4 separate regions of the Homo sapiens genome follow, and all the other regions are linked to region 1. The links come from fine-mapping of genetic effects on gene expression. A gene starts in region 1. Each other region holds a variant in brackets. All regions are shown on one strand. Distances are from middle to middle. Region 1 holds the start of KRT1 (keratin 1). Region 2 holds the start of KRT2 (keratin 2). Region 3 has its middle 23 kb from the start of MIR9898. Region 4 holds the start of KRT74 (keratin 74).

What was found. PIP is the estimated chance that this variant, and not a neighbour inherited with it, causes the effect.
Region 2: its variant is fine-mapped to the expression of KRT1 in whole blood (INTERVAL, PIP 0.93).
Region 3: its variant is fine-mapped to the expression of KRT1 in whole blood (INTERVAL, PIP 0.99).
Region 4: its variant is fine-mapped to the expression of KRT1 in whole blood (INTERVAL, PIP 0.95).

The regions. Positions count from the first base shown.
Region 1 is chr12:52,676,313-52,684,403 of GRCh38, forward strand. It overlaps KRT1 (keratin 1), which reads right to left and starts at 4,095. Exons shown (of 9, transcript NM_006121.4): 1 at 3,446-4,095; 2 at 2,230-2,444; 3 at 1,851-1,911; 4 at 1,338-1,433; 5 at 1,004-1,168; 6 at 747-872; 7 at 1-183. The coding sequence starts at 4,036.
Region 2 is chr12:52,649,896-52,657,997 of GRCh38, forward strand. KRT2 (keratin 2) reads right to left here and starts at 2,316. Exons shown (of 9, transcript NM_000423.3): 1 at 1,663-2,316; 2 at 444-658; 3 at 19-79. The coding sequence starts at 2,247. The variant C/A (reference allele first, on the strand shown) is at 4,224.
Region 3 is chr12:52,871,470-52,879,571 of GRCh38, forward strand. No RefSeq gene overlaps it. Among named protein-coding and RNA genes, the nearest start is that of MIR9898, 23 kb to the right of the region's middle. RefSeq lists a silencer at 2,755-2,984. The variant A/G (reference allele first, on the strand shown) is at 3,776.
Region 4 is chr12:52,567,206-52,575,307 of GRCh38, forward strand. It overlaps KRT74 (keratin 74), which reads right to left and starts at 6,638. Exons shown (of 9, transcript NM_175053.4): 1 at 6,102-6,638; 2 at 5,248-5,462; 3 at 4,739-4,799; 4 at 4,154-4,249; 5 at 3,464-3,628; 6 at 2,654-2,779; 7 at 964-1,184; 8 at 454-488. The coding sequence starts at 6,572. RefSeq lists an enhancer at 5,063-5,232. The variant C/A (reference allele first, on the strand shown) is at 3,661.

The DNA.
Region 1 (8,091 bases):
AATCTCCAGATCCAGGGCCAGCTTTGTGTTCATCAGCTCCTGGTAGTCGCGCAGCAGGCGGGCCAGGTCTTCCTTGGCCTGCTGCAGGGCATCCTCCAGGTCATTCAGCTTGTTCTTGGCATCCTTGAGGGCATTCTCGCCACGCTGCTCTGCATCACTGATGGACTGCTGCAAGTTGGAGATCTGAAAAAGAATATGACACCCTCTCATAATATGCATTCCCCACTAGGCCTCCTCATCCCAATTGGTCTCCCCACTCCAGTGAGGCCAATAATGAGTCCAACAGAACCACTTGGCCTTAAGTCATCTCACACCCACCTCCAGATAACACATCACCATGTTGACTTCCTTAAAAGACCTTAGGGATAACTCAACAGCCTCTCTTGGCCCTGAGTCAAGGCTCCTACAACCCTTACAGACTTGACATTCTTCTAAACACCTACTCTAAAACCTCCTGGCTGCCCTTCCTCTCACTCCCCAACTCTTAAGTCCACTTTGGGTCATAGGCTAGATCACTCACATTGACCATCCCATCTTTCTCTACTAGGCCATTCTCACAGATTTCCCTAAAGAGAACCCAGCATGATGGCTGCATTCTGGAAACTAGCATAGTCACAAAAGGAACCAGGGATAATAATGTAGCCTTGGGATGAATTGCAAGATTCAAAACTAGGAAAGCACTCGCCCTTTACCTGAGGGTTACCCCCATTCCATACAGCTGAGTGGTAGAAGGAGAAAGCACATACCTGCTTCTTGACATTGTCGATTTCAGATCTAAGTCTCTGGATCACACGATTCAGCTCAGAAATTTCTATCTTTGAATTTCTCACACTATCCCCATGTCTGCCAGCAGTGATCTGCAGCTCTTCATACTAAAGATGGTAGATAGCGTTTGTTAAATGTAGGCAGAACTCAGCATGGCACAGGCACACATACATGAGATAACACAGGATAGCAAGACAAGCCATTTCAGGGAAACTGGCTAGGCTTTCAGCCCACTCACCTTGCTCTGGTACAAGGACTCGGCCTCAGCTTTGCTCTTCTGGGCTATATCCTCGTACTGGGCCTTGACCTCAGCAATGATGCTGTCCAGGTCGAGACTGCGGTTGTTGTCCATAGAGAGGATGACATTAGTTTCACTGATTTGAGTCTGCATCTGAGACAACTCCTGCAAGACATAATAGGTTAGTGACTCTTACAGCACTAAAACAAAAAACAACTTAGACAGAGAAAGCAGTCAGAAAATAAAAGATAAATATCTATTCTTCTGAATCGTTGTGGGTTCAGGCTTAAAAACTCTCCATTTAGATAAACTTGGTTGAAACTGGAAGACTTACTGCTTGGTAGAGTGCTGTAAGGAAATCAATTTCCTGCTGCAAGTTGTCAAGTTTGGCCTGAAGGTCCACCTTGGTCATATAAGCACCATCCACATCCTAGAGGAACAAGGGACATCATGAAGGCACATTCTCTCCAGGGCAGGTCCCTCTCATTACCTGTGAGGGGATTCTCCAAGCAAAAAAAGGAGCTTTGGGTCTACTCCACTCCTTTTTGCCCCAGGTAAATCACAGTTCCCTAACTGTCCCACCCCCGGATAGCACCATCAAGGGAGTGTGCCTGGCTTGCTGAGAATCTGCCACTCCACTTACTATGTAAGGTGCTGGGAAATATGGAGAAGCCAAGTGCCTGGATCAGTCCAGGTCCATGATGATGTGAAAATATAGCCCCACTCCATATACTCCCCAGGTCTACTACCTGGCTCTCCATATCATGGCTGCTTTCTGCTTAGTAATTGGAGACCCTCTTCCCTTATTTATTTCAAATGTGAGTTCCGTCCTACAGAATTTGCTTACCTTCTTGATGGTCACAAATTCATTCTCTGCATTTGTCCGCTTGTTGATTTCATCCTCATACCTGCAGGAAAGCAGAAACAATTAGGAGATTCAGAGGTGGTAAGACCTGAAGTCCAGCATTCTAAACTAAAGGTGGCATTGCCTATCACTGCCTTTCTATTATGAACCTAGGACATATTGGCCACTACTTTCTACTGAGCAATAAAACCACTAGACTATTTCCATCTCCTGAGAAAATGAAGATTTCTGAAAATGTCAAACTGATGTGCCTCTAACCTAAGAAAAGACATAGCTACATGCTGCTTCATGATCTTAGCTTATTACTTTCTGGAACTCTTTTACAGCAAAAGTTAAGAACTGCCCAGACAGGGTCCCTTACTTGTTCCGGTAATCCTCCACCATGTCCTGCATGTTCTTCAGTTCCGAATCCAACCGAGATTGATCACTCTTCAGTTGGTCCACTCTCCTTCGGAGATTGTTGATGAATGACTCAAAGTAGGGCTCTAAATTATGGGTTCTAGTGGAGGTATCTACCTGCTGCAGCAGCTCCCATTTTGTTTGCAGTACCTGGTTCTGCTGCTCCAGGAACCTCACCTAAAAACACAAGACCCCTTTACTCCTGATGCATAAATGGAGTCTCATAGCCATGGAGAACTGTGCCTCATTTGGAAAAGAACCTCAATTCCTATCTTCTGACCATGACAGAGAAATAGGAAGAAGATGATCAAGTTAATATCATCTGCATAATAAAACCCAACTTGTTAATTCAGAGAGGGCTTGGAAGGGAGTAACTAAACAAATACCAATAGCAAAGCGCATACAGAATTATTGCAATTATGTTTTGAAATAGGTGCATGGTATTTAAGAGATTTGCCTTCCAAAATTTTGTTAGGTATATTACCATAAAAACTGGTTTGCATCCCCAGGACACACACACATTTCAAAAGTATATCAGGAAAATTCAAAATTGGATTTGAAATTTGTTGTGGATAACCTTGGATTGGCACTATTAATGATTAAGCAAAAAATTAAAAAAATGGTTTATCTGAGTTTTTTAGAGCTGATTTTTGGAGATATTAGTATAAAAAAACTCTAGCCTCATCCAGTACCAATGTAAAATTATTAGAAGGCAGAGCTCCCCTCTGACAGCAAAAGATGTTTGGCACTGACTGACCACATGTTTTCTGCTACAATAACACTCTATACTATGTTCACACTCAACTCCCTTTCTATGGTTAGGAAGACCTTTCCAGGGTTCTCACTTGCACCCTGGAAAGTTCAGTTAGCCCCATTTCTATTATCTTCATTCAACAGATATGAGTCCCAATTCCGCTCAAGAGCTGAATAAAAAGCACTTAAATGTTAATGTCACACTGACCCACCTTTAGGTCGACCACGAACCCTTTGTCAAAGAGAGAGTCATTAACACCATTCACAAGCATACATCTAACATATCTCCTAGGAGACCATTCCACAAAACATCCTTTTAATCATGTAAACATGGAAACTTGAGGTTCAAACCTACTGTGTTTTGACTGCACCAATCCCAAGTGGACCAGCGGCAGCCCTACCAGTGCAATGAGAGAGAAACTCACCTTGTCAATGAAGGAGGCAAATTGGTTGTTGAGTGACTTGATTTGCTCCCTTTCTCGAGACTTCACCTTTTGGATCTCAGGGTCAATCTCCACATTGAGGGGCTGAAGAAGGCTCTGGTTGATAGTGACTTCTTGTATGCCACCAGGAGGGCAGACAGGACCATAACCACCCCCATATCCACCACCCCCAAAGCCACCTCCACCAAAACCACCACCACCACTGCCAAAACCACCAAAGCCACCACCCCCAATGCCACCTCCACCAAAGCCACCACCACCAAAGCCACCACCACCAAAGCCACCACCACCATAACCACCACCAAAGCCACTACCACGTCCACCTCCTCTAGCCACACTTATGGAGATGCTTTTACTGCCACCAAGGTTAACAAGACTCCGACTTCCAAATCCACCACCAGCACCAAAGCTACCACCACCACCACCACAGCTTGAAAATCTCCCACCACCTCCTCCACTGCGGCGTGTGGAGCTGCTGGTGGTCCTGCGCTGGTAGTTGATGATCCCAGCAGAGCCAGAGCTGAAGCCCCCTCCACTTCGGTACCCAGACCTGGAACTAAACTGTCGACTCATGTTGACTTAGAGAAAAGTAGGAGCAAGGTAGAGTAAGGGAAGGAGCTAAACACTCCTCTACCCCAAGCATAGAGACTTCCCCTTATATACAGGGAAGAAATTGGGCTTGGTCTTCTAGAGTCAGCGGAGATGCAGTGCCTGTCAAGGGTTTGGCTTGCCTGCAGCCATACAAGATTTTTACGAGCCTCAACAATACGATAAACACTACACACCTAGCTCCCAGGATGGGCTCTCAAAATTGCTGTGCATGCAAGATTGGTTCATGTGGTAATTATTTTATCACACAAGATCTTCCTTCAAGCATTTGTGGCTTTGGGAAAACAGGACCCCACATCTGATACCTGGTGTTTCTTGGTAGGATTTCATAACCCCCATCAAAAAGGCATGAAAGTTTCTATTCTCACCTTGCCTTTGTGAGCTACCAAGCACACTCTCTTACCATGCACAGCAGGTGCAATTCCCCGTGCTTGGATCTCAGAAGGAGCTCTCTGGCCCATTTCTAAGATCTTCTTTCCAAACTCCAGAGCTCACTCAGTTACAACCTGACAAAGAGAAAGGGCTTTAATAACTAAAAAATTAAAAGGTCTTTCATAAATATAAGCTTTATAAATATACCACAGTGATTAATTAAAGGAAGAGAAGCTGTCATTGAACAAGATGGATGAGTGGGTGGTCTGGAAGAACCAGAAGGGAGAGACATTTTTTTTCTCTGTTTCTCAGTTATTCCTTTTCTTGTTTCTTTTCTTCAAAGATAGAGCAGGAGACAGACACCAGCAATAGAAAACAGGTAGCAATGGATAGCATGCAAACGCCCTTGAGTGAAAAAGCCCACAGAGCAGTGAGACGAGTAAATAGAAGCTCTAGGACATTTTGTAAAGCACAGGGGTGGAGGTGAGGCTTGATAGGTGATTCAAGCCTCACACTGGACTGCAAAGAGAGAGAGATAAATGCAGATTTGGAAGGGAAGACAATGAGAGGTGTCTGGAGAGCCTTATATGAGAAGTTTAAATTGTTTCTGGAGGTGATAATAATGATAATACCTAACATGTATCAAAAACTGACCATGTACCAGGCACTGTTCTACGTAGCACATATGTATTAACTTGCTTAATTTTCACAACTTTGAGATAGATGCTATTTTTCTCCCCATTTGTAAAATGAGGAAGCAGAGACACAGGGGTTGAATAACGTGATCAAGTCTACACAGTTGGTAAGTGGGGTGCCTGCGATTTGAAGCAAGAATACCTAGCTATCATGTGCAAGATCCTAAACAGCATGTTGTACGACAGCACAGCAGCCGAATTCAAGTCATTCTGCCTGCTGTGTGTAAAGCCAGACAGCACAGGAAGCGCCCCACCACAGAGAGCTCTGAGGGCAGAAGGCCTGTTTTATCACTCTGAGTCCTTGGCTCCTGGCACATGCAAGTCTTGGAAAATGTTTCTTCAATTCACACTGAGAAGGAGATTTTGGTGGCACAGAGTTTAGTGAGGAGATTTTACTTCCATCCAAGTGCAAGAGTACCCAGCATGCATTGCAATGGACCAGGAAACCTCAGGGGTCTTCCTGGAGAGCAGCACTTGATCAATATCAGTGGATAATAGTGGCACTGAGATCTGGACACACTAGAAGCCCAAGCAGACTTTCATTCGAAGACTTCTTAGAAGCCTGGCATGGTCCCCGGGCCTGCACATAAACACAGAATTGAAGACTCAAAGGGGAGAAGCCAGCTCTAACTTCAGCTGGCTCCAAGTAACTCTGTAAGTGGCAAACCATAGATGTACATGGGAAGTCTCCACTATGGTGTGCAAGATCTATGGGAGAAAGGGAGTCTGTGAAGATCATCTGGTCCCATTACTCTGTGGCTCTGAATCGGGCTGGCTGTGTCGGTCCTCTCCATTGCACTCCGCTATTGAACCTTGTCCCTCTTCTCCTCCCAGTTTTTGCCCTATACCCTCCTCCAGAAAGTGCCCCTCACCGCTCCCCTGCTACTCCTCTCCCTCGCCATCACTGTGGCACTGCTGTCTGGGACTCTGTCCTAGCACTAAAATCCTTCGGCTGCTAAACCAACCATCTCTTTAGGGAATGAGTAATTCAGGTCTTGTTAGGAACAATGGAGACTGGGACAGTCTTGGCATGGTAATGACTGTTGCCTAATCATTTTCTGACAAGCAATCAAAATTATTTTAGTTCAGCATACTCCCTCATGAGACATATTGTTCTGCACAATCGATTCCTTCTAGCATTTTGGAGGGGTGTGAGTATGTGTGTGCACACATGTTTGTGTGCACACATGTTTGTGTGCATGTGTGTGCCAGCCAAAAACAGACCTTGGCAGTGATCCACACTCCCATCTTTGAACTAAGAAACTGACATACAGAAAAATCAAAGGTTTGAATGAATGGTCAGGGAATTGGTAGACAACTTAGCTGCAAAACATACCCCAGGTGCTCCTGTGAGAAGGGAGAAATGCAGGACTAGCAGGAATAAGTGCCATAAACCTCACCATAGCTTACATTTGCACAGCTCACCCCACCAAACACATATGCAAAGAGCATCCCACAAGAGCCCTGAGAACTAGGCAATCAAGCTGTTCTCAACCCATTTCATGAAACAGAAAACTGATTCTCAGAGATTAAGTGGCTTCCTCTAGACACTCCGGCTAGGAAAAGACACATCTGGAAGCAGAATCTGGGTTTTCTGATTTCAATTCAAGTGACATTCCTCCCTGAACCGGGAAGAGGCTCAAAGACAGGCAAGTGGAACTGGGCCCTATAAACAAGTACACAGAGAATTACAGAATGTTCTCATCCATGGGGCCTCAAAGGTCACATCATCTAACCTGCCTCACAGAGAAGTGAGAGCACAGGCCCAAAAAAGTAAAAAAAAAAAAAAAAAAAAAAAAAAGTGTCCAAGTCATAAGTCAATTCCTGAGACTCTTCCAATTGTTGAATCAAACTCCTTTTCTTTTTCCACTGCCCACTTTCGAGGCAGCCCAACAGAGCTGGAGCTGCAGTGCTGCCAGACCAGGCCCGTCATCTCCTGTGATGTCCCCAGGATCAGTGTGGGTGTGTGGGATATGAAGAACCACATGCAGGAAAGGTGTGAGCCACACACTCTCTCCTGGCTTACTTATGTACTGTGCATTTATGAAATAAAGACAAAATGAGAAAGAAAGAGACACTAACATCTACAGGCAGCAACTATGCTGTTAGGAGCCACATTGCATTTAAATACCACACAAAGTCTGCGTCGTGGGAGCTCTTAGCCCCATTTTAAAGAAAAGGCATCTTAGGTTTATAGAGGTTGAAATATGTGCCCAAAGTCATCCAGCAGGTAACTGACAAGCCACGCTTGCCTCACTCCAGAGTCCAAGCCCGCCGCATCACATGGGCTCCTTCTGTCATTGGCCTGCTCTCACCACCAGCACCACCTACATCTTACCCTGCTCACCCACTCCCCCGGCCTCACGCCTTGACCCCTTCACTCTCGTGCTTTGCCCAGACTGATCAACCCTCTTCTTCCCTTTCCATCCCTGTTCCTCTCTGTCTTCCAAGCCCACTTCTACTCTTCTCTTTTCTGAAAGGTCTTCTGGTTGCCTCGGCAACTTGCCACAAATCCCTACCCATAGTCAAGCTCTGGGGCACCAAAGATCTCAATTCCTGAGCATTTGGTCCTGAATCTGTTTTTGGTCCATCAGGGCTTGTGGGCAAATGCCTTCATCTCTCGCTCAAGCAGGCAGCAGACAGGTCCAGATCTCATCTCCTCCAGGGAGTTTTCCTCAGTCCACATCGGGCAAGTGCTCTATTGGTCTCTTTTTCCAAGCTCGGCTGCTGCCAGACTTAGTACATATTGATGCATTTGTTGGCTCATTTTCATGCATGTGCTTGTGTGTTTCCTGGCCCCTCAATCACTCTGGAAGCCTTTGGAAAGCAAGACTAAGTCCCCTGTGTCTTTTGATGTCCTCCCAGCATCCCACATGGCCCCTTATACTTGAGAGTTACCCCAGCGGTGCTGGATGACAGAGCACCAAAACACCCCCACCCAAGGACTCACAC
Region 2 (8,102 bases), 26 kb before region 1:
AGACATTCTCTCGCTCACCTTTTTAAGCGTCACAAAATCATTCTCAGCAGCTGTGCGCTTATTGATTTCATCCTCATACCTATTGGGACACAGATGTTACAGCAGTTAGATTAGTTCCCCTTCATTTTTTTTCTTTTCCTTTTATACTGGATTCACCCCAAATGCCCCATTCTCTGGGAATATTACACACTTTTTAAATATCTAAATTGAAACTAAGATTTCCAAACTAAAGATATATTTTTATAAACTAACTCTCAAACATACAAAAGACAAAAATGATCTCTAAAGTCTCACTGTCTTCCTCACAAATAATCAACAAAGATACATATGCCTCTCCCCATTACCACCACAAATGCAACTGGGAGATGAATGGCTTTCCAGGGAGTGATCAAATGGCTCAGTGCAATGTTTATCTCCACTCAGCGTTTCACTCTGCCACCTACTTCTTCTTATAATCCTCCACAAGATCCTGCATGTTATTCAGCTCTGAATTCTGTGATGTTCTTTCTGCAGTGAGCCCATCCAGATATCTCTTGAGGCTGTCGATATACCCCTGGAAGATGGGCTCCAGGTTGATGGGGCGGGTGCCAACATTCATTTGTTGTAGCAGCTCCCATTTGGTCTGTAACACCTGGTTCTGCTGCTCCAAGAACCGCACCTGCCATGACCAGAAGGAGAGCACATGAGTTCTAGATCATCCTTCACACCAAGCAAGCCACGCTGGCCAGGGGCAGCTCAGGTGCTGCTTCAGGACCTCGAGAAGTGTCTGAGGCTGGATGCCGAGTCATGACTGGCAGAGCTTCTGAGCTCCCTGCTTTCGCCCCTGGAAAGTCCCACAGACTCCTAATGCTACATCCGGCTCTCTCCACGCAGAGGAGACTCTTTGCTGCTTCACTGCTCACTGGTTTGTTTGCAGCTGCTCCCAATACTCTAGACCATTTCCCTCCCCGCATCCTGGTTGAATTTCCAGCCAAGATCCCATAAATTCTGGGGAAAACCGAAAGCAGCCATCTGCTGGCACTGCTCGCAAGGGTGCTGAGTATGAGAGTCCCAGAGGGCAGGGCTCCTCAGCCTGATTTTTAAGAGCCTTGTAAATCCCTGCCTATTTCAAGGCAGATAAACCAAGACAGGTTCGTCTGCCTTGAAATAGGAGAAAAGCCAGTAACACTCCGAAGTGACACCAATAAAGACTTTATGGATCACAAAACTGAGAACGCTTCTCTTGAAGGCAGGAATTTCCTGCATTCCCAAGCAGATATTTCAGGTTCAGCTTCCCAGAGTTTAGTAATCACTGCTAAGGAAGGAAACACTATCTCAGAAGACGATGGCTTCCAAAACCTGCTGCTCCAGTGGCCTGTCCCAAGGATCAGTTCAATACTTGCCTATATCCATTTTTTATGGTTTTCAGAATTTTCCATAAATATTATTTATATGGACTGTAACAATAAGGTCAAAGGGACAAATGCTTCCTAAGTGCAGGCTGTTATGGGAAATGTAACCCACAAAGCTGGCGTCTTTTCCATCTGGAAACCGCAAATGACCCAGGCTACTGCGGTACACCACTGGCTCCTAAGAAATACAAATCTGTGCCATTTTCTTTTTGGTTGGCTCTGGAAGTGAAGTGGCCTGAGCATCAGTGGGAGCCGTCTTCTCCAGAGTCACCTTGTCAATGAAGGAGGCAAATTTGTTGTTGAGAGTTTTGATCTGCTCACGCTCTTGGGCCTTCACATTCTGGATCTCTGGGTCAACTTTCACGTTGAGAGGCTGCAGGAGGCTCTGGTTGACAGAGACTTCGTGGATGCCACCAGGGTATCCTCCAGGCCCAAAGCCACCAGGACCCCCTAAACCTCCAACACCACCAGGGCCCCCAAAACCTCCAAAGCGGCCTCCACCAAAGCCGCCTCCACCGAAACCACCACCACTGAAGCCGCTGCCACCTCCAAAGCTGCTGCCGCCTCCAAAACCACCTCCTCTGCCACCAAATCCACCAGCGGCGCCAAAGCCACCACCTCCTCCAGCCACACTAATGGAGATGCTCTTGGTCCCTCCAAGGCCAACAAGACTCCGACTGCCAAAGCCGCCTCCACCGAAGCCCCCGCCACCACCACCATGGCGGCTCAAGCAGGAGAAGCTGGAAGTTGATCTCCGGCTTCCACCAGACACCACAGCTGAGCCGCTGCTGAAGCCCCGGAATCCTCCTCCACCTCCTCCTCTTCCTCGAGATTTGCAAGAGATCTGACAACTCATGATGCCTTTGTCCAGGGAGGAAAGTCACAGGCTCTTGAGAAGAGTCAAGGCTGGAGACTCAACTGTGCTGCTGGGAGGCTTTCAGGGTCCCCTTATATACCTGCCAACTAGGTGTTGTGTACATGGGTGTGGATCCACTTATACGTGGGTTTGGTCTGCCTGGGAGCTATTCCTGGTGCGTGATTATCAAGCTAATAGCCATTAAAAATCTACTAATCAGCTCCATCCCAGAACTTGCTTTGATTGCAAACTTCTGTTTATCTGGGCATCTGTCATGCAATTTGATTTTTGTAAAATCATCAAAAGAGGAGATCAGGGTTTGGGTTTCTCAATCTGGAAAAGGACCTTCTGCAGAATGCTGCTCCCTGTTCTGGACCTGCCCAAGGGAAGTCAGCTACCACCCATGCTTGTGCAGGCTCACCACCCCAGTTCAACAATGAAAGGGATGGTGGGTTTAGAGACTGCAAGAGCCCCTCAATGCCAGCCTTGTAGTTCTCTTGTAGTTTCCCTCTTTCCCAGAAAGAGCCCCAACTAGTGCAGGGGAGACTGCAAAGGTCTTAAATGACCTTAAATGCTAATTGGAAATCGACCTCCTCTTACAGAAAGTAATTGGCCTCGGATACTGCAAAAGAGGTGTCGATTTTCAAAATATCTTGGCTCTTTTCTTCCCATGCCACACCAAAAATACACAATAACTAGGCACCGAATAGAGATTTTTTATAACCATGATGGTTTGTATAACCATCAACTGTCCCTTGTCTACATGAACACCCAGAGGTTGAGAGGTATGAGAAAAGTTTCGCTGTTTCTGGACCTGTGTGATGCGGGACACCAAGTGAAAGTTTGCAAACCAAGATCCAAGTGTATATTGATTCAGTCAGTCAGTAATCACGTATTGCCTGGTGATCCTGGGAAGTGATTAGGAAGTCAGGCTCTTCAATGACATCCACAGATGCTTGAGGATAAGAAGACCATCCAGCCTGCACAGAGCACTCACACTTAAACTCAACCACTTCCTCTGTCCATGTGGCCAACTATGTGGGAGAGGTTCTTGGAGTAATAAAACTGAATTTAGTCAGAAATTCTGGGTTTGAGTCCCAGTTTTGCTATTTATTGGCTGTGAGGCCTTGAATGAAACCCTGAGGCTCTGTGGTCCCAGCTATAAAATGGGAAATTCGTATGAAGTGTTTTGAAAACCACCGTGCACAATAAAATGTCAGTATCATTATTGTTTGGGGTGAGACAAAGATAATTCCTTTTCCTTTCCCCCTTGCCATGTTACTGTCTTCTGGCTACTATGAACATGCACTCTCCACAGGCATCATAAATTACAGAACCAGGTGGTTCAGATCCTAGTACCAAGTTATCACAAAATAATGTAAAAAACATAAGTTTGAGGTCAAATCCCAATTTTCTTGTATCTTAGTTAAATGACCTCAGATAATCCATAATCCTCTTCAAGCCTCAGTTTCCTCATCTATAAAAAGTGAACAAGAATAATAAGAATATGGCTACTGTGAAAACAGAACAATACACACATGTGCTAAACACAGTTCCTAGTTCATAGCAGAAACTCAATAAATGCTATTCACCCTTCTGCATCTTCCCCGCCAAGTTTCCAATCCTGTCTTAACTACTATTCAAGGTATTTAATTTGCAGTAAAAGAATGCTGAAGGAAACAAAGCTACATGTCTCCTCAATTATTTTTTCCAATCTGGTTTGCATAATTATAATCATGCAAACAAATCATGAAGCTAACAGCTTTGGAGACAGTCTCAATCCAAAGCAAAATGTGTCATTATCTACAGATATCTGAGCAATGCCCTAGTCGTCCCTTACTCCACCATGACTGTGCTCACACTATGGCAGCTTCAGGGGGGTCTTAATGCCTCTATGAAGGAAATTGAGCCAGATTTGTGCTAGGCACCCAATCTGCATGTTTTACTGCATTTTAATTCTGCCCTCACACCCTGGT[C/A]TCCCTCCCCACTCTCTCCACTGAACATCTTCTCCTTCTAGACCCATTCACCAATTTTTGAAAGTCAAGTTGAAAGAGTCCTCCTACTCTTTTGAAATGTGGAGACTAGAATTAATGCAATTTGAATATTATGTAACATTTTATTTCTATATTTTTAAATTTTCAACTTTTACATAATCTCAATGTGCTTTCCTAGATAATATGCTTTGCATTCTTTAAGAGAGTGAAATGGAAGTTAAGAATCTTGGTCTGGTTGTGATTTTGCCTCTACGCAACTGGTATCCTCAATTTCTTCATCTATAAAATAGGAATATTTATCCTGAATCCCTACTGTCCCACAAGGACATCGAGCTATTGCTGCAAAGAGTGTTAAGCTTCACTGTCTCTGAGAAGAGAACAGGAATCCTATAGAACAAAATCCTTCTTCCTGTTCCCCACTTTTTCTTTCAACAAACTGCCAGCAAGTCCAAGATCCTAAATGCTTCTCCTCATAGTGTTTCAAAAGCTCGTCTATTGGCCAGTGGGGCAGAAAAAATGAGCCCCCAGTATTAAGCAGAGAAGGGGTTAACTGTCTAGCCAACAGGAAATAAATGCTCAACCTAGTGTGGATGCTAACACCAGAGTCTCCAGGTAAGAATTCATTTCCCTCTCTTCTGTTCTCCTTTAGCAGTGGCGTATCTACCTGCCTTACAGCCTCATCATCACAGTCCTCCCTGTGTGACAATGAACCATGTCCCAGGACTTCTGTAGGGTAGAGGCAAGGTCATATTTATCTTTAACCCAAACCTTTATCCCCTCAGCACAGAGAATCACTTGAAGAATAAGCCTGTATTCCAAAAAAATCATTTCTCTGGTTTTTGGTTTGGAATTGCAGGTGTTTCCAGATGTGTGCATGTGATGCTGGCAATGCTTGAAGTCTTCGCAGCCTTTCATGGACCTGTTGCCTAAAGGTCCCACTTGGAGTTGTCTCAGGTTTCTGTCTCAGCCCTGATCAGGGTTCTCTCCTCCAGCCAGTGAGTTTAGTCTCTCCTTCCCAAAGACTCAGTGCATCAGCTGGAGACGGCTGCTGAGCCCTCGGGGCATCTGGCTCCTACCACCTTGGAATGGAAACCAAGAGTTTGGGTTTAAGAAAACCGAACCAAAACAAACAAAAAAAAAACCCTCCTCTTCCAGCCCCTGCTGCTGGGCTCAGGCTGCTCAAGAGGACCAAAATCCTTAGAGAGTCCAATAACGTCATGAAAGAAGTTAGGAAGACAGAGAGGCGAGTCAGCAGGAGGCTGGAACAAGCTGAGCAGCAGGTCAGCTGGAAGCAGAAGCCTCCATGGGCAGCGGCTGCCTGGCCTCTGCATGGGCTGCTGGCTCCGGGTACCTTCCATCAGAGCGCCCAGGTGCTGCTCCAAGGAGCTCTGCAGCTCCCATGGCTCCCAGAAAAGAAGGGACAGGAGGCTGACAGACACCCAGCAGGAGAGACTTGCTCAACACCTCCCTCCAGGGCATTCCTTCATAAATGATCATTTTAAAACTGCCTACTCAGTCTCTCTTCCCAGCCCCTGACCCAGTTCTCCATTTTGGCCCAGGCTCCCCTCCTTTCTTACCTAACATCTCCTTTTCAGTTTTTTTTTTTTTTTCGATCGGCCCCTTTTCTTACAGCGAGACAGGTAGCTGTTTGATTTTCAGGTGCTCTGGCCAAACTGGTTATGACTGAGGAGCCAGGCTGGCAGGCAGCCACGTCCACCCTGAGCATGAAGCACCAAACATTCCCACTGTACAGAGCCCATTCTGGAACGAGGAGATTCCAGGACACACACGGCAGGCTTATCAGGAAAGCAGGATGTGTCCTCTGCTCAGAAACAATGCTGGCCCCAGAAGCAGAAGAGGAGAGAGGGCAGGGACACTGCCCAGTGCACAGCAGGGACCCTACACATGTTGGTTGAACAAGACAGCTGTCTAGCAAGAGGATATGAGCCATCAGCGCCTAGCACAGAGCGAGTCACCTCCTTTCCCATAGCCAAGGCCATGTCATGTATAGGTCTAATTTTCCAAATGGACCCCAGAATATCTGACCCAGAAAATGGCAAGTGACACAGTTCAGCTTTATTCTCAGTGGGATCAGTCTCCAGTTGAATTAGCTCTGCTGTATGCCATAGGCTACTGCAACTCCCGGGGGCCTGGGCCTTGTTTGCTAAACTGTGGTCTAGTTAATGATACTAGTGTGACATGTGGCTGTGTGTTCCCAACTACAGCAAGTCTTCATTCACACAGAGAAAGCCTCAAAGGGTCGTCTGTGAAAAGCTCTTGCCCTTCCCAGGTGCAGTCCTCACTCCAGCCGAACTGTTTCCCCGGACCACGTTCTCCTTCTGCTCTTGCACTGATATTCATATTTTGTCCATGATCTGTGTAGCCACACAAATGTGGAAGGACAAGACAGCTGTGAAATACTCCATCCCATCCTGGTCATGATTTCAGAAAAATGGAGTCGCTGTAATCATACCACTCACGCCACCCTCACAGTGCAGACTTCTCCAGGTTTCACCAGATTTAATGCTGCCCCCTTCTTACCCAACTTCTCCATCTAGAGGAGCCTTCCAACTAATGCTATATTGTGCTGCTGCCACTGACAGCTGGAATTCACTTTGGATGCCTCCACCTGGGCATTCGCCAGTTCTTCAGCAGCAGCCTGTGCCATGCACCACAGGAAGCTCTAAGAGACATCCCAGCCCTCACCTGCTCTCCCACACCAGCCCCACCTCTCTGTCCCATCACTGAGAGCTGCCGCCACCCCCTTGTGAGCTCTTTCAAGGCTTCCTGCATTTGTTCGGATAGAGATCATTGCAGAAGAAGGCAGGTGGGAAAACATCCCCCCACCAAAAAATCAGAGAGAGAGTAAGCATGAAAGTTAATTGAATTTTATAAGACCAAATTCAAGAGACTCCTGCTCCTCTTTCTAGCAACAAAGGTTTTAGACACACCGTCAGACTGTGGGTGCTGGGATGCCTCACGTTGGAAGCAAAGGCCAAAGGCTTGATTCTGAATGACCTGATTGCTCCAGGGATTTTTATGAAGCAAAGAAAAAAAGGAAAATAAAACTGCTCAAAATTCTCTGGACGGCTTTTTTTTTCCACCACAGGCTCTTCTTTAAAAGCCTTTCAATTCTAAAAAAGCAGGTGGAATCATTGCTAATTAAGCAATTAATGTTTAACAGAGCTAGTATAGTCATTCATGTGAGATTATTAAATTTACGACCTGAATTATATTTTTATGAGCCATAGGCACAATTCATAGTCCATTGGGTATTCAAAGAAGTATATTAGTCTCTATTTAGAAGTACATTTATAAGGGAAGCCATGTGATAAACTGGGAGGAATGTGTTTAGGAGTGAAGGTTGGGTTCCTCTGCCAGAAGCCAGCCCTGTCACCTTGGCATGTCACCTCCCTTGCTGGGTCCCCCTTTCCTCCCCTGTGGACTGAGGGATTTGAAAACCAACAGGAACAGGGTGACTCCTAGATAAGGAGGTAGAGGACATGCATTCCTGTGGCCAACTGCCTCCAGAACCTAAGGAACCTCAGCTTTTCTGAGCCTTGATTTTCTCATCTGTAAAGTGGAGGCGCCGGGCTACACCGATTCCTTCCATTTCAGACATCAGTTTGTGCTTTAAATGGACACAATAGCTAAAGCCCTGAGAGCAGATGCAAACTCTGGGAAAGCGTAGAGACAAAATGTGCAGACACAGACCCTGCTTTCGGTTATTTTCTCACCAAGAGATGAAGGAAGAAATGGCAGCAGTAAAGTAGACAAAGGGAAGCCAGAGAGGAGAGAGAAGGGCAAACAGGTACGCTGCAGCTGAATAGGAGGGTTTGCCATCAGGCAGGAGCTGCCATC
Region 3 (8,102 bases), 200 kb after region 1:
GCAGAAGGGTGTGTGTGTGAACAAGTGAAGTCATTCTCTCTGGGTGGCTCCTTTTAATTAGCACCCTGAAAAAACTCCCAGCCAGCAAAATTGAGTCTTGCCAACTGGGAGCCCCATCATTCTGACTCATCCAGGCCCTGGGGGCGAGAGTAGGGGCACGAAATCTGAGAGTCAGGAAGGGGGTTGTTGAAAGCCTGGGCATTTGAGAAGGCTTCTCAGTCTTCTGGAGGACCCTCAGGAAGGACGTGGTCACATCTGAGAGTCAGTTGGCCCCTGGGAAGCTTGGACTGAGTTGGTTCAGAGCAAGAGAATGGAGGTTGGCAAGGCATCAGAGAAATCACCGCTTTCCCCAGCTCCCCCGAGGAGACCAGCCCCTGAGCTTGGCCAGGGTCAGCCCTGGAGGTCATACTACAGGACATTACATCAGGTCCAGGCCTGGGTGAAGCATTTGGGCCATTTCAGTTGTACTCAACATTCTAAGCAAAGAGTCACCTGATATCTTATGGCCAACCCCCAGAATCTAGTCCCCGGAACTGGAAGCAGCAAGTTTACTCTATGAAGGGGACAGAGCAAGCCTCAGGCACCTTCCCTCAAGACCCCTCGCCCCACAGTCCAGAGGACTGTCCATGCCCCTCCTCTCCCTCAAAACTTTTCTGCAGGCAACTGCCTGATAAACCTCCCAGAATCTGTGCCAGCCTCCTGGCCTGGTGTGTTCAGTTGCTCCACTGTTGCCTGGATCTGACACTCTCTTCCCCTATCAGGCTGGGAGTCCCAGAGGCCAGGGCCCAAGCATCTCCTTGCTCTGGTCTTCAACAAAAGCCCTTAGGACCATATAGTCCACGGGAGGGGCACAAACCTGCTCCCTGTGAAAATGGGCAGTGGGGGAGGTGGTGGGAGCCCTGAGACTCAGGGCTTCTCTGGATGGGGAGACAGGAGCCCCAGGTTCAATCCCACTGCTGCTGCTACAGAATCACTGTGTGACCTCAGATGTGAAATTTTCTACCTCGAATGTAGACCCAGTAGCCTTGGGGGTCCCTTGCAGTCTCTGATACTAGGATTAGCTAGTAACCGAGGGTTCATTGTCGGGGGAAACACCAGGGCAATGGGAAAACACTACTTGGAAGACCAGGCTGGTATGGCCGTGATTGAACAGGAAAGGATTCTTACTGCCAGGGTCAGGAGCAGGGATGCCTTCTAGCTCTCCCTGGCTCTAGAGCACCATTTCCAAATGCCCCCAGCTCCAGGAAGGAGTTCAGGCAAGAGCTGGGGAGCTGCACAAGGCAAAGTAGAGCAGAGCTGCCTAAAACTGTCCAGGGCCCAGAGGGCCATTCCCAGGGGCTGGCGGTCCCCCTCGGGCTACTTCCCAGGCCAAGCAGCCAAATCCCCAAAACCGGAATCCACCAACCCAGAGGACCACCGCCCCTGCTGACCGCCAAACCGTCCCTGGAGAACCAGACCATTGTGCCCTCCCACCAACCACAACCACCCTGGGGGCCCCCACCCTGGAGCTCATGCTGTTGGGAGAGGGTAGGGCCTGATTTCAGGTGACAGTGGAGAAAGGATGGGGTGACTGCTCTTGGGGACAGAGAGTGGCGTGTTGGAAGAATGAAGGCGTCCTGTCCCTGGGGCTGAGTGGGAACCTGAGCAGGGCAGGCACCGCCCGACGCGGAGGCCTCCACCCCCAACCCAGCTGGGCTGCCTGCTCCCATCACACCCTGGGCAGTAAAACTTGCTTTTATGGTTGTTGCGGGGGTTGTTTTCCTTGGTGGTGGGGGCAGGGGGTTCTGTTTGTGTCTTTGTATCTTTGTGCAAATACACCTGTGTTGATATGTGCCTGCTCCTATACATGTATTGATGTCTGAGGTTTTGTGTGTGTGTAAATCTGCATGTGTCCATGCCTCTGTGTGTGGATATATCTGTGGGGGAGATCATCATAGCTACCATTTATTATTTCAATGTACTCTCCAGGTGTTGTTTCCTTTAATCCTCGGACAATCCTTTAAGGAAGATATTCTAGCTATCCCCATTTTACAGATAGGGCCATAAGGTTGGAGAGATCCGATAATTGACCCAAAGTCAGATCACCAGTAAGAGGCAGAACCAGGAGACTTCCCTCTACTGCTGAATGTGTCTCTCTGTGTGCCCGAAAATAAAGAGCTATATATGAGAATCGTGTAACATCTGTCTGTGTGTGTGTCTGCACCGTCTAAACCTGTGCATGTGTGTGGGGTGTGTGTGTGTGTTTTGTGGCCCAGGTGCAAGTCAGGTGCACCTGCCAGCAGCTGGCATCACCAAGGTCTTAGGGACAGTGGCCCTCTGAGCATATTTTCTGACTGTATTGTCCCTAGAACAATTTCTGAAGCAGATGACAGCGTGTGGTGTTGCTGACTGTGGACAGAGAACTTCTGCCGTCAAGACCGTAGCAGGAAATGCCCCTGTGCCCCTGAGCCTGGCAAACAAGGCAGCCTGTCTCCTTCAAGGAGGAGCTGAGTGCCCCGCAGAGACATTCCGGGAAGAGCTCAGAGGGGGGTAAGAAGGAAGAAGAGCGAGGCTGCCTCCCACCCCCCGCAGAGCCACCCGTGCCCCTAATCCACAGGTGGGAGTGGCGGGGAGTGGCCCCTCGAAGAGGAGCTGAGACGTCTCCGCTCGGTTCCCCTGAGAGCCCTGTGCTCCGTCACCGACAGCCTCTCTCCAGAAGTAGAGACCATGGAGTCTGGCTGGGTGCCGCGTCAGGGGTCTCTCGGGGCGGCTAGAGGCCCTGGGAACCTGGAAGCCCGCGGGGCGCGGCGGGGCGGGGCAGAGCGCTAGAGCCGGGTGGCGGCCGCCGATTGGCTGGGCCCGAGCGCTCCCACGGCGGCCGGGGGCCCCAGGGCGGCGCCGGCCGCGCCCGCTCCGCGGTGACTCATCCAGCACCCCACCTCTGGAGCTGGACGGGCGCCCGGCCTCTTCCCACCCCAGACCCGCCCGCTAAGCCGGGAGAGCCTGACTCAGCAGGGGGAGCCTGGCCTGCCTTCCGCCCCCTTCGCGTCCTCCCCCGGGGCAGAGGAGAGTGTTGTGGGGAGAATGCGTTTCTGTCCCTGTGGGAGAATTTGTCCCGCTCTAGGGAGGAGAATCTGGTATCTGTTCTTCTGGGAGACTGTGTGTCTGTCCATGGGCGGTGGGGCCTTCTGTCCCCACAACGGGAGGTTGTGTGCCTGTCTTTCTGGGGGTGTCTCTGTGTCTTAAGATCTTTATGAGTGTGGCCGATGGACTGTGGTCTTTTGGAATCTGCCTGTTGGTCTCTTTGGAGCATCACTGACCTCCACCACTCCAGATCATCTCTGTGCCCCCCTACACCCCACTTCCCCAGAAGTGGGGAAGAGCTTAGCAGCTCTGTGCCTCTGTCTCACAGCGGCCAGGACAGGCCCCTCAGGGGTTAGCTCTGAGTAATTCTCCAGCTCTGGCTCTGCCCCCTCCACAGTGCCAGGGCCCCTGAAGGTCTGGGGCCAGATGCTACCCTGCAGGCCAGGCTCAATCCCTACAGCAGTGCCTGAAATATCTCAAAGTGATTTTAAAGCAAGATCTCAAAAGTGATCTTAAACCAAGTGATCCCTCAAAAAGGGAAAAGGACCCACAATTGTCCAGAGACTACTGTGGGCCATGTGTGCCATGCTAGGAGCTTCGTGTTCACCTTATCGATGCTTCTCACAGCAACTCCAAAAACAAACATAATCCCCATTTTACCGGGGAGAAACTGAGGCCTACGTGGTGGCTCAAGGTCACACTGGCACAGTAT[A/G]TGAGCAAATCTGGATTTGAACCCAGGACTCTCTGGCTCTAAAGTGTATGCTCTTTCCACGGCTGTGGCTGTTCCCTGAGCGCCTTAGCCAGGAGTGGCCTCCACCTGGCCCCACAGCAAACCTGGGGGAAACTCCACCACCTCCACAGGGAGACCAGCCTTCAACTTCATCCAGGCTTTCCCATACCAAGAGAGGATCCCCCAGGACTGTGAGAGGGACTGGGGTGGGAAGGAGAAAGAAGCCAAGAGTCAGTACATGTGGGGTTTGGAGTAGGCAACAGGATATGCCAGATCCCGGGGCTGGGGAAGAGGACCCTGCAGCTCGACCCACGCACACTTTGTAGGACACACACACACACTCACATACACATGCACAATGGCTGCTGGACACAGTGCACAGATCCAGCTGTGGGGGTCATTGCAAAGATGCCCAGACACACACACGTGCATGTTTCATGTGGTGCACACCTGATATATAGAGCTGTTACCAACAGACATGAAGGAATCAGTGGAGTCATTACACACAGATTCACAATGGTGTGCAGGTCATTACTCACACACACACACACACACACACACACACACACACACACACAGTCAGAACCACCAAAAAGAGGATGATGAGGGAGTGAGAAGAACGTTTGAAGCTGTTGTAGGAACAAACCAGCTCAGGGGCCTGACCAAACCCACTCAAGCCCCGACCCAGAAAACCTAGACCTCTTCCTCTGCTCCCCACAGGCACTCACAATGGACAGCCCACCAGTGCCCCTCTGCCCTCTGGGCCTAAGACCCGGACTACTGATGTACACACAGAGGAACAGGCATGCACACACACATGCCTTTGAGAAAACACCTATGTGAACACAAACTCACAACAGATGTGTTCCCCAAACATAATATGCAAAAGCCACATAGGCCTTTCCAACAAGCATGTACACACAACAGTCACTCGGGCGCACAACCATCCCACAAACATATATCCATGCAAGACTCTCACACAAGCACATCCAGTGCCAGTCACACAAACACACAACCACCCATGCACTCACACAGACCCATGGATCCATGTACACAACGTAGGAAGGAGGAATACAAATGCACACACAAATCAAATGCACACGCAAATCAAATGCACACATGAGTTAAATGCACTCACGATGGGGATATGTGTGCACAGACCATGAGCATGACACACCTTCCTCCCACAGCACGCACCACTGCCCCTCAACCTTCCATCTTGGCACAAACAAGGCCTGGGCTTGCTCCATCAGCTCCATCTCCTCCATGCCTGAGACAGGCCCTGCCCAACCTGCCCCAGCCTGCTTGAGTGGGGCCCCGCCTGCTCCCAGCACCAGCTGCCAACCCAGCTCAGCACAGGGCAAGCTGCCCACTGCTCGGGCACGTCGCTGCCCCACCCCCTCCTCCTTAGGCCTGCCATCTCAGCATCTGGGCCTCAGCCTAGGCCGCACCTAGCCCATTTCTGCAGGTGAGTGGGTAGGCAGGGTGCTTGATCCCCACAGCTGGAGGTGAGGAAAGGGACCAGGCAGTTAAGACCCCACGAGGAAGGGGCAGCCTGGCTCAGAGCCTCTCACCTCCAACCCTGTGCCTTCTTTTTCATTTTTATTTTATTTATTATTTACCTATTCTGAGACAGGGTCTCACTCTGTTGACCAGGCTGAAGTGCAGTTGTGCGATAGCTGCCTGCAGCCCTGAACTCCTGAGCTGCAGCAATCCTCCTGCCTTAGCCTCTCAAGTAAGCTAGGACTATAGGCACATGCCATCATGCCCGACTAATTTTTTAATTTTTAATTTTTCACAGAGACAGGGTCTCACTGTGTTGCCCAGGCTGATCTCAAACTCCTGGCCTCAAGCAATTCTCCCATCTCTCAAAGTATTGGGATCATAGGCATGAGCCATCGCACCCAGCCCTTCTCCTTTTTAGGTGGACCCCTCCTCACCAACATTGGGTCCCCACAGGTAACTTCCTGGTTGCAGTCAGCAAACACATCTAGAACTACAGTTCCACTGTAAACAAGGTATTCTGTCCACACTGCCCCTAACCAACAAACACATCTACACACACACACAGACACACACACACACACACACAGGCTTTCAAGCACACACACCACCACTGGAACAGATACCTAACCAGCACTCCCTGTCACAGGCCCACAGCACACAGCCCTGCACGTGCAACTCAATCATATATACTCCCAGCACACCACACGGTGTCCCAAACCCCCATCTCACACATAGTTTCATGCATAGTCCCCATAAAATATGCACAGCTGGACACAGCGTCTCTATGCATGTCTCAACACACAGACTTGCACAGTGTCAGGAGGCTCTTGTCATTGTCCCAAACACAGTCATGCCAGCTCTGCACTGGGATAGCTGGCTCTGGGGGACAGGTCTTTGCACACTGCCCACCCATTGGCTTTGCAGTTCCAGGACATCGGAGTAGCCTTCGTTTTATCCCTGCTGCCCCTACCCAAGAGCCATGATAAGCCTGGCTGGGGCAAGGAGCTGCAAAATGTCACTGCCAAAGCCATGCCCTCTCACAGACCAGCCCCTCAGGCATGGGGAAGAAAGCAGAAATAAGCCAATGGCTGGTAAGAGCTCAAAACCGTAGAAGCCCTATGGCACCTGAGGTGGACCTGGGAAGAGGACACATAAACCCTTGAGCCTGCTGGCCCAGGAGGGAGCTGTGCAAGGGCCGGGCAGACCCAGGAGGGAGCTGTTCAAGGGCCCGGCAGACCCAGGTGCTGGAGTAGTAGGGGCAATGACGGTGGCAGGAAAGTCATCAGAGATAGGGCCTGAGGTTAAAAAGCAGTAACACCCCTAGAGCAACTCAGGGCAGGCCAGGCCCTTGGAGGGCGCCAGACTCTCCTCCCTGTGCCCTTCCCCCTCCGCCTTTCAGCTTAGGAGTCAGGCAGCAGGTGTTCAAAATGCTCCCACTAGCCTGGGCGACGTGGTCAGAACTTGTCTGTACAAAAAATAAATAAAAATTAGCCAGGCAGGGTGGCACACATCTGTGGTCCCAGCTACTCAGGAGGCTGAAGTGGGAGGATCACTTGAGCTTGGGAAGTTGAAGCTGCAGCTGCAGTGAGCCTTGGTCACACCACTGCACTCCAGCCTGGACAACAGAACGAGACCCTGTCTGGAAAAAAAAAAAAATGCAGCTCTCACTGGGACTTCTGGGGGCTGACTCTGCTCTGCTTCCTGACATGAGTGCTGGTAGCATGATCTGTTCAGTTTGTGAAACTTCATCACACTGTAGACTTATGACTTGAGTACTTCTCTCTATGTATGTTACACTTCCATGAAAATTGTTTTTGTTTTAAATAAATCTCCCCGTGTGTATGAAGCTCCACATCTTTCTGGGTTGGTGTGCACATGTCTGTCTGTGCCTGTCTGTACCTGTCTGCGCCTATGCACATACAATCTCCCATAGGAATTATTCCTTGTCTCTGGTGCCTGAGGCCCTCCATATGTGCACCTGACAGTACACACACGCGCACACGCATGCACACACCCACAGCCCCCTGCCTGCGTGTCTTCCCTCCATGATGGCAAGGCTGCCGCTGCAGAGGGTGGGGAGGGAATGTAGTAAGGCCTTTCTTTCATTTAACAGCAGATATTTACAACCATCTGCTCTGTGCCAGGCACGGGGATACAGAAGCATTCCAGTCAGACTGGGCCCTGGCCAAGCTCACCGTCTGCTGGGGAGGCTGTGGTGTGGTGAGAAGGGCCCTGTGGGGTAGCACAGGGTAGGGGGAGCCCAGCCTCGGAGGGGCAGGGACGGCTTCCAGAGGAGGAAATCCTAACTAAATTGGGAAGATGAAAGGCTCACAAGTGGATGGGTCAGCCATAGGAGGTGCATTGCAGACAGGGGGACAGCAGGCACAGGGGCTAAGGGTGTGAGGGGGTGCGACTTCCTCAGGGAACCCCCAGGGGATTCAGCTGCCTGAGTGGAAGGCCACGGCAGAGGTGACTTCAGCGGGGTCAGGCGGGCCTGGAGTGCCAAGCTCAGGGGCTTGTGTGTCTCCAAGGAAGGGTTTGGGCCAGGCTGGGACATGATTGGGATCAACTGGAAGGAGTGCTGTGGAGGAAGGCGCACTGAACTGAGAGTGAGGACACGGAAGTTCTCACCCTGGCTCTGCCCGATGCTGCCCAACTCCCCTCTCTGAGCCTCCAAAACGACAGCGTGCTGCACCTCGGAGCCGCTGGCTCACAGGCGGCTGCTTTCTCCTGGGGCCTGTCTGCTGCCGGCTTGCCTGTCCTCCTGGGTCCTGCCCACGCGCTTCTGCCCCCAGGCCCGTGC
Region 4 (8,102 bases), 110 kb before region 1:
TGTCAATCAGCAGATAACAGCTATGGTAACGGCTGTCCCCAAGGGCTTCTCCACAACAACACCTCATTTAATCCGCAGAACCACCCTCAGTAGTCAAGAAGCACTACAGAGATGAACTGAGAGCCTATTACGGGCCGGACTTCGTGTGAGGTGAAGACCCCATCAGATAGATACAGTCCCTGCCCTCCTGGAAATGCTAGGAAAATCCATGTCCACCAACCCTTTCTCCAAATGACAACGTCCCAGGGGAGAAACAGGAAGGGAAAAGGGTGGGCATGACCTCAGTCACCATTTCACAGGATGAAAAGGGAGAACATTTCCTTTGAAGCCCAGAAACCTTCCCAAGACAGTAACAGAAGCTTCTTGGGAGGTGAGACAGTAAATGGAGGTGACATCACTTTGTCCCAGGGTCCCTGGCTTTCCCAACCCAAGGCATCTCTCAAGAATACTCACAGATGCTCACAGAGGATGGATTCTCACCAGACATCCTGTGAGACAGAAAGTTAGAGAAAGATAAAAACTCAGTGTCGAGATTCCACTAAACATCAATGGGCTCCTGCTTTTATACGTGCATCATTTAAACTCATCCTTATAACAACTTACGAAACTGACACTATCGCCTTCATCTTACAGATGAGAAAACAAGAGTCCTGGAGATACTAGATGATTTACCGAGACCACACCACTAGCATAGGATAAAGCCAATAATTAGCCCCTGCTGAAGAGCCAGTCATTAGCCCCAGGTCTGTCTGAGCCCCCGGTTCTCATCACAGCAGCACACGGCCATCTACGCTTCATGGCTCATGTCCAACAACCCCTTGCAGGAAGCTGCCTCTGAGTTCACGAAATCACCACATCTCTTGCTTGTATTGGCACTAACCATGTTGTTCTCCAGGTGGCCCCTCAGCCAGACAGGAGCCACACCCCAGTCCCTTCTCACACTTTCCCCTCCACCCCACCTACCTGCACTCCTCGCCCTCCAGCAGCTTGCGGTAGGTGGCAATCTCCATGTCCAGGGCCAGTTTCAGGCTCATGAGCTCCTGGTACTCGCGCAGCATCCGCGCCAGCTCCTCCTTGGCCTGGTGCAGGGCGCCCTCCAGCTCATCCAGCTTGGCCTGGGCATCCTTCAGGGCATTGTCTCCCCGCTGCTCAGCGTCAGCGATGGCCGTCTCCAGGCTGGCACGCTGAAGGGCAAAGAACAGAGAGACCATCAGAACAGAAAATTACATTTAGCTCATACCAGTTAAGTAGAACAATGCCCTCATTTTGCAGATGGGGCCCTAGGTGACAAGGAGTAAAAGCTGCAAAGCCAACACCAGAACTTTGTCTCTTCTATTTTCTATTGCAGAGGAGTATTCAAAGCTGTTATCACATGAAGCTGTGGAAGCAGTTGCATTTCAGGAGGTCAGGAAGAAATGTCGATGTTTGCAAAGTTAGATAGTGCCTGAGACCGGAGGCCACCAGTATCTACAGATTCAAAATACTACAGGTTCAGGAAAATCATGCCCGATCCCCTAGCAAGGCCAGCCCTGAGGATGAGACAGTATGCCACGGTCCCACTGTGATCAGATTCCTGCTGCAGGACCTCTCCCCATTGGGGATCCTTCTGATCTGTTAGCATCCAGATGAGTGTTTCTGGACTCCAGCACTCTGGGGAGAGTCTGTGTGAAGGCTCCCACATCTGGCCTTCCCTTAGAGCAGGAGGATAAGGCCCTAAATTATAGGCACAACCTCAGAAGCTGGACTCTGATGAACATCTGGGGGGCATTGCGATGCCTGTTGCTAACAGAGAGGGAGGAACTATGCTCATGGAATTTGTGAATCGGCCAAATGTAGAGTCGTAGAGTTGTCCCTGTGTTTGCCTGCAGAGCATGGAGGGTTGTGGGGGCACCAGAAGGAGAACAGGCTCAGATCTTTCCGCTGGTCAATTCTATCACTAGCAGAGCAGACCTGGTTCTCAGAGAGGTCACAGGAAGGATCCTCCAGCCTCCAATATCATCTCCCCACTGACGCAGTGTTTAAAATTTGCTGCTGTCAGGTAAGACAGGCCCCCCACCCCCACCCCCCCGCCCACTAACATGGAAGTAGTACCATGGCACAGGGCAAGGGAACCCAGGAGGGCTTCATCGACAGCTGTGTCCCTCAGTCAACAGACCATGCCCCACTCCGAGAGCAGGAACCTGGTGTGGCCAACAGAGGCGCCTGATGCATACCCTCTGCACCCCACACATGTTCCATGTCCAGTGGGAGGAGGAGACAGAGGGTCTGCCCTCAGAGGGGGCACCCAAAGGGGACATGGGGCAGGTTCATTGGACACAGAAAAAATCTGCAGAAGGGGAACCTGGGTTCTAATCCTAGCTCCATTCATTACCAGCTGGGGGCTCTGGGAAAGTCCCTTCCCCTTCCCAGCCCAGTTGCTTTATCTGCAAAATGAGGAGTCAGAGAAATAGGTTTGAGGCTCCTCCCAGTTCTGGGCGGGGTACCAGCTCTGATGGTAGGGTACCGAGGCAGGGTGGGAAAGGGAGACTGTGGGTGGCCGAGGGACCCCTAAGCCCAGCAGGGGATATTTGCTTGTTCCCAAAGGGCAGGCCCCATTTCCTCATCCCAGAGCCTGCTGTGGAGACCGGGAGTTCTTTGTGGGGCTGCTGCCCACCTGCTTCTTCACATTCCCGATCTCACACCGGATCCTCTGGATGAGCCGGTTCAGCTCCACCATCTCGCTCCTGGTGTGTTTCAGGTCGTCACCATGCCGACTGGCTGCCAGCTGCAGCTCCTGGATCTGGTTTCCCAGAGATAGGAAGTTGGTGATGAGACAAGGGCACTGGGGAAGGGTCCTGTAAATAAGCCACCCCTGCCACCCTGGCTGTCGGTGGGATTTAACGGAACTGAAGAGGAGTGCTGGGACAGGGTCCTGGGGGCCCAGGTAAGGGGTTTTCTCCCTGACAGCCCCAAACATAGTTCCATTACTCAGTTTACCCAAAGCATAGTTCCATTACTCAGAGCACTCCTCGCCTTCCATTTCCTTTTGAAAGTCTTCCCGTGGGGATCAGGAAAGAGCTACAGGCTTCTCCTTCTCTCACTCGCCCCCCACCAAATTCACCCATGGCTACACTCCCGCAAGTCTGTGATTCTCCCTCTGCCCTGTGGCAACATGCCCCCATTCCTATAAGTGTGTTTGTTTTACCACCTCACTTCTTTCACCTGCAACAGAGAGGAACAGGCAGTTCGTGGATGGAGGAAAGAAGTGAGGGATCCTCTCTGTTGCATATATTCAATCCATACCAGTTTCATGATTTATCTTTGATAACAAGCTCTGCTAAGAATTCCTTTTTTCCTTGAAGCCTTGGTTGGAACCTTTCTTTCATTCAGCATGCCCACAAAAGTATTCCTCACATTCACTGTGCAGGTGACCCCTCCCAGGAAGCGAAGGGCTGCTGTGGGAGGAGACCCATTCGGTGACCACCTTGGTCTGGTACAGGGCCTCGGCCTCGGCCTTGCTCTTCAGGGCGATCTCCTCATAATGCATGCGGACCTCAGCGATGATGCTGTCAAGGTCCAGGTCCCGGTTGTTGTCCATGGACAGGATGACAGAGGTCTCACTGGCGTGAGTCTGGATCTGAGCGATCTCCTGCATTGAGAGAGGAAGACAGATTCAGCAAC[C/A]CCCTGGCTTCCCTCTTCTGCCCCATCAGTCTTCTGGGCCCATGGTCCCTGGCCCAATAGGCTGCTAGGATCCACGGGGACAAAGTAGGGGGAAGAAGTGCCCTCTGGGATGTGTCTGCAGAGCTGAGGGAGAGCAGCTAACAGCAGCAGGAACCCCTGCATATGGCAGATGCCCGCTGGCACATGCAGACGGGTGAATAATGCATTTTCCACAATTTCACAGAATCCAAGGCTCTGTGCTTTGTAAGACCTCACTGGGTTATCTTTTCCTGCCCGTGGGCAAGTCCACTATTGTATCAAGATCAATTTCCTCCTGTATGTATGGCCTCCAAGGACCAGCATCCTGCACTTCCATGGTCTCCTGGTGCAGGGTTTTGTACCTTTCTACCAAAACATCTTTCATTTTGTTGATCCTAAATCTCTCCTTTTGGTATCTCCCTGGAAGAGTCGGGAAGGAGGCAGGGTGAGGGTGGGGGGACAGGAGTGTCCTTACTGCATCATACAGACACTTGAGGAACTTGATTTCTTTGTCCAGTGAGTCCACTTTGGCCTGAAGCTCCACCTTGACTGCGTAGGCTGCATCTGCATCCTGCCAAGAGGCCCCAGAGTCATTGGGGGATGCAACCCTCATCCCACAGCTGCCCTGCCCAACTCCTGCCTCAAAGCCACCTGATTTTCTATTTTCTACCCACAAAGGAAAGCTCACTCAATATCAATTTCTTCTCAGGCTGCCTGAAGCTTTGGGAATAGGGAAAGGAGGATGGGGCAGCTCTGTTATGCCTGGAGAAAACAAAGCCCAGAGAGGTAGTAGGTTTCCTCAGGTCACACAGCAAGGTTGAGCTGGACCCGAGTTTCACAGTTCCCAGACCAGAATTCTGTCTGTCTCTGTCCATTTCCTGAGTGTGTGTCTTTCCTCTCCAACTCACTGGAGGCCAGGACTATGACTCCACCCTCACCAGGCACCAGCCCCCTCACCAGGCACCAGCCCCCTCCCCAGCCTCCTGGGCTGAAGTCCTGAGCAGAGTTGTTAAGATGGGGGTGCGAGAGACCCTAATAAGGAGGCTCCTCCCTCTCTTACCTTCTTAAGCACCACAAACTCATTCTCTGCTGTCGTGCGCCGGTTAATCTCCACTTCATATCTGCCAGCAGGGAGAGTAGATGGCCTTAGCCCCCTTAGCCAAGGAACTTTCTCTTCCTGCTGGCCAGGCAAATGTTTGGGATACAGGGTCCCTGCAGGGTCTCTGGGGTGAGCAGTAAGAGGCTAGTGACAGGAGTAAGATATCCCTGAGTTGCTTCACTTGTCTCCTAGTTTTTGCATGTTAGGAAAACACCCAGGTGCCTATTGGGCTCCCGACACCAGCAACTGAACATTTCAGTGGGTCAAGGAGCACAGGAACCGCTTCCTATCAACTAGGCAGGAAGTTATCATCAAAGAGGATAGGCCCTTCCCCCTAGCCAGAGAAAGGGATGTGAGCTCCTGACCCTGGTGCATACTCCCCCATCTCCTAAAAAATAATGGCACAGAGATCAGGTGAGCCCAGAGGCACGGGAAACATGGTCTGTGACCCTCGGGTGGAGCCTGCTCACCTCTTCTTATAGTCCTCCACCAGATCCCTCATGCTTCTCAGCTCCGAGTCCAGCCTCACCCTGTCCCCAGACAGTGTCTCCAGCTGCTTCCGCAGGTTGCTGATGTAGCCCTCAAGGATGGGCTCCAGGTTCTTCTTGCAGTTGTTCAGGTCCAGCTGCTGCAGCAGCTCCCACTTGGTTTCTAGAACCTGGTTCTGCTGCTCTAGGAAGCGTACCTGGAACCCAAATCAACAGACACCTGGAACCACAATGGGTGCAGTCATGCCCCCTGGACACACACCATTGACTCCCCAGGTTTGCCATAGATTGTTGTAGTCATTTTTGCTCATGTCTTGACTCTCCACCCTTGCCATTCCACACAAACTAGATCCTTTACAAGTGCTCATTTCCTAGCCTTCTGGACAAGGCATCACTGAGAACTCACTCAAGGAGTTTCCACAGCTTTCTTCTATTGCTCGGCCCTGGTCCCAGGAGATGTCCTTCCTTATGTCTCAACTAAGTGTCTCTTCCTGTACCATGAGCCCTTCCCTCTGAACACTGCTGGATTCTATTAGCCTTTCATGTTCTTGGAAGATCCAGCTGTCCTCAAGAAACTCATCACTTTTTTGTCAAGGAAGGGCTGCTCTTTACCCAGCTTCCCATCCTTCCCTGCAAAATCGCCAAAGAAGCCGATATATTCATGTATTCCTTTGTCCTCCGTGGCTCACAGACCTACTCTCCTTCCCTAATGGTGAGGAAGCCCTTCCTGAGGCCCAGCTGCACCTTTCCAGCCACAGTGTGCAGTCCATTCCCAGGCAGCAGGAAAACTGCTCAGGCCTCAGGGTGCGGCCTCATCCTCCTCCTATGAGACCCACCTTGTCAATGAAGGAGGCGAACTTGTCGTTCAGCACCTTGATCTGTTCCCGCTCCTGGGCGCGCACCTTCTGGATCTCAGGGTCCAGCTCCACGTTGAGGGGGGCCAAGAGGCTCTTGTTGACAGTGACCTGGTGGATGCCCCCAGGTGGGCACACAGACAAACATGCAGGCCCCAGGGCCACACTGCCAAACATACTGCCAGCAAAGCCACTGGCCCGGCCCCCTCCATACCCAGAGCCAGGCCTGAAGCCGTAACCTCCAGCCCGAACGCCGCCACCAGCCACATTGAAAGAAATACGCCGATTCCCTCCAAGGCTATAGAGGCTCCGACTGCCAAAGCCAGCGCCAGCCCCTCTGCCAGCTGCACAGTAAGAAGCCAGGCTACCCACAGCCTTCCTTGGCACCACTGCCGAATGCACACTGAAGTTGCCCTTGTCACCACTGGACTTGATGTTCAGTTGCCGACTCATGGTGGGAAAGGTTGAGTTGACAGAGCTGGAGAAAAGCAGTCTCCAAGGGGTAGAGAACACACTGATGGGGCACCCAGAGTGCTGCCTCCTTTTATCCCTGTTGAGCCCAGGACACCGGAAAAGGGCGTCTCTCCACTATCTCCTTTCCCCTGCTGATGGGCCAGGGGCCATGGGCAATTTGTAGAACAGAGATCTCCAAGCCCTTTGCAGCAACAAAGCTCTTCTGATAGCAAGTGGAATATGCTGCCCTTGCAGAGTGGAGTGGTCTAATTTGGAGTTTATCTGTGCTCCCTAATTAAGGACCTGAAGAGTTATCCCCTGAAGAGATCTCCTAGCTTTATTTTTCCAGTGCTACCTCCTTCTTGCTTAACCATCAGCAAGGAGCAGGGGAAATGCCTGGCTTTCCCCAGAGTAGACTCACCTGAAAAACCCCAGGTTTCTTCCCAAAAGAAACCATCTCTCTATTATAGGGTCTTGTGTGGAAGCTGGAATTTTTACCTCAGGGAAAAGAAGACATGGAAAGATGATTCTTCTTGGAAAGATGTCCTCAAAGATCTGGATCTGGGTAAGAAGCTCCAGGGTCCGTCCTTGGGCCATGCTAAGGACCACAGCTGTCTAGCAGTGAAGTGGACCCCAGGAAGGAAGAGGAATGACTCTGCAGCATCTGCATGCCCCCCTAGCAGGGATATTGTCTAGGGCCTTCTGTGTTGGGCAGGGCCTGGGTGGTGGTGACCTTGACATTGCCTTACAACCATGAGAACCTTTCCAGTCAGCTGCATTTCCTCCAGTTGGATTTTCTCTCCTGGATAAGATTATTTGTCCTACTCTAGGAAGTCAGGCAGGAGCTGGGATATTAGCCCCTGCACTCCCTGGGGAAACACCCTATGGCTGAAGTCACCAAGGAACAGGACCCCCTGAGTTTCACTCCCAGGTTCAGGGTGGGCTGTTCTGCCAGTTTCCTGGCAACTTCAGGGAGCACTCAATTTTCAAACAGGAAGTATCACTGCTTTATAGCTCAGGTAGTGTGGGTACAGTGCAATGTTAAAAAATTATTTCAGGGCTGGGCATGGTGGCTCACACCTGTAATCCCAGCACTTTGGGAGGCCAAGGAGGGCAGATTGCCTGAGGTCAGGAGTTTGAGTCCAGCCTGGCTAACATGGTGAAACCCCGCCTCTACTAAAAATACAAAAATCAGCCGAGCGCAGTGGTGCATGCCTGTAGTCGCAGCTACTCAAAAGACTGAAGTAGAAGAATCACTTGAACCTGGGAGGCAGAGGTTGCAGTGAGCCTAGATTGTGCCACTGCACTCCAGCCTGGGCAACAGAGCAAGACTCTGTCTCCAAAAAACAAAAAAAATTATTTCAAAGCTAGGTATCTGGCAGCTGCCCTCATGCAAGACTCTGACCACTTCCTATAACTAAACTGAGAACACTTGGCTTGTTTGGATCCAGCCGAGGGCAGAAGACAACTGCTCCCACTGCTGGGGAGGGAAAAGGAGAAGCTGACCTGGGCAGGGAGCGTGGAGCTTAG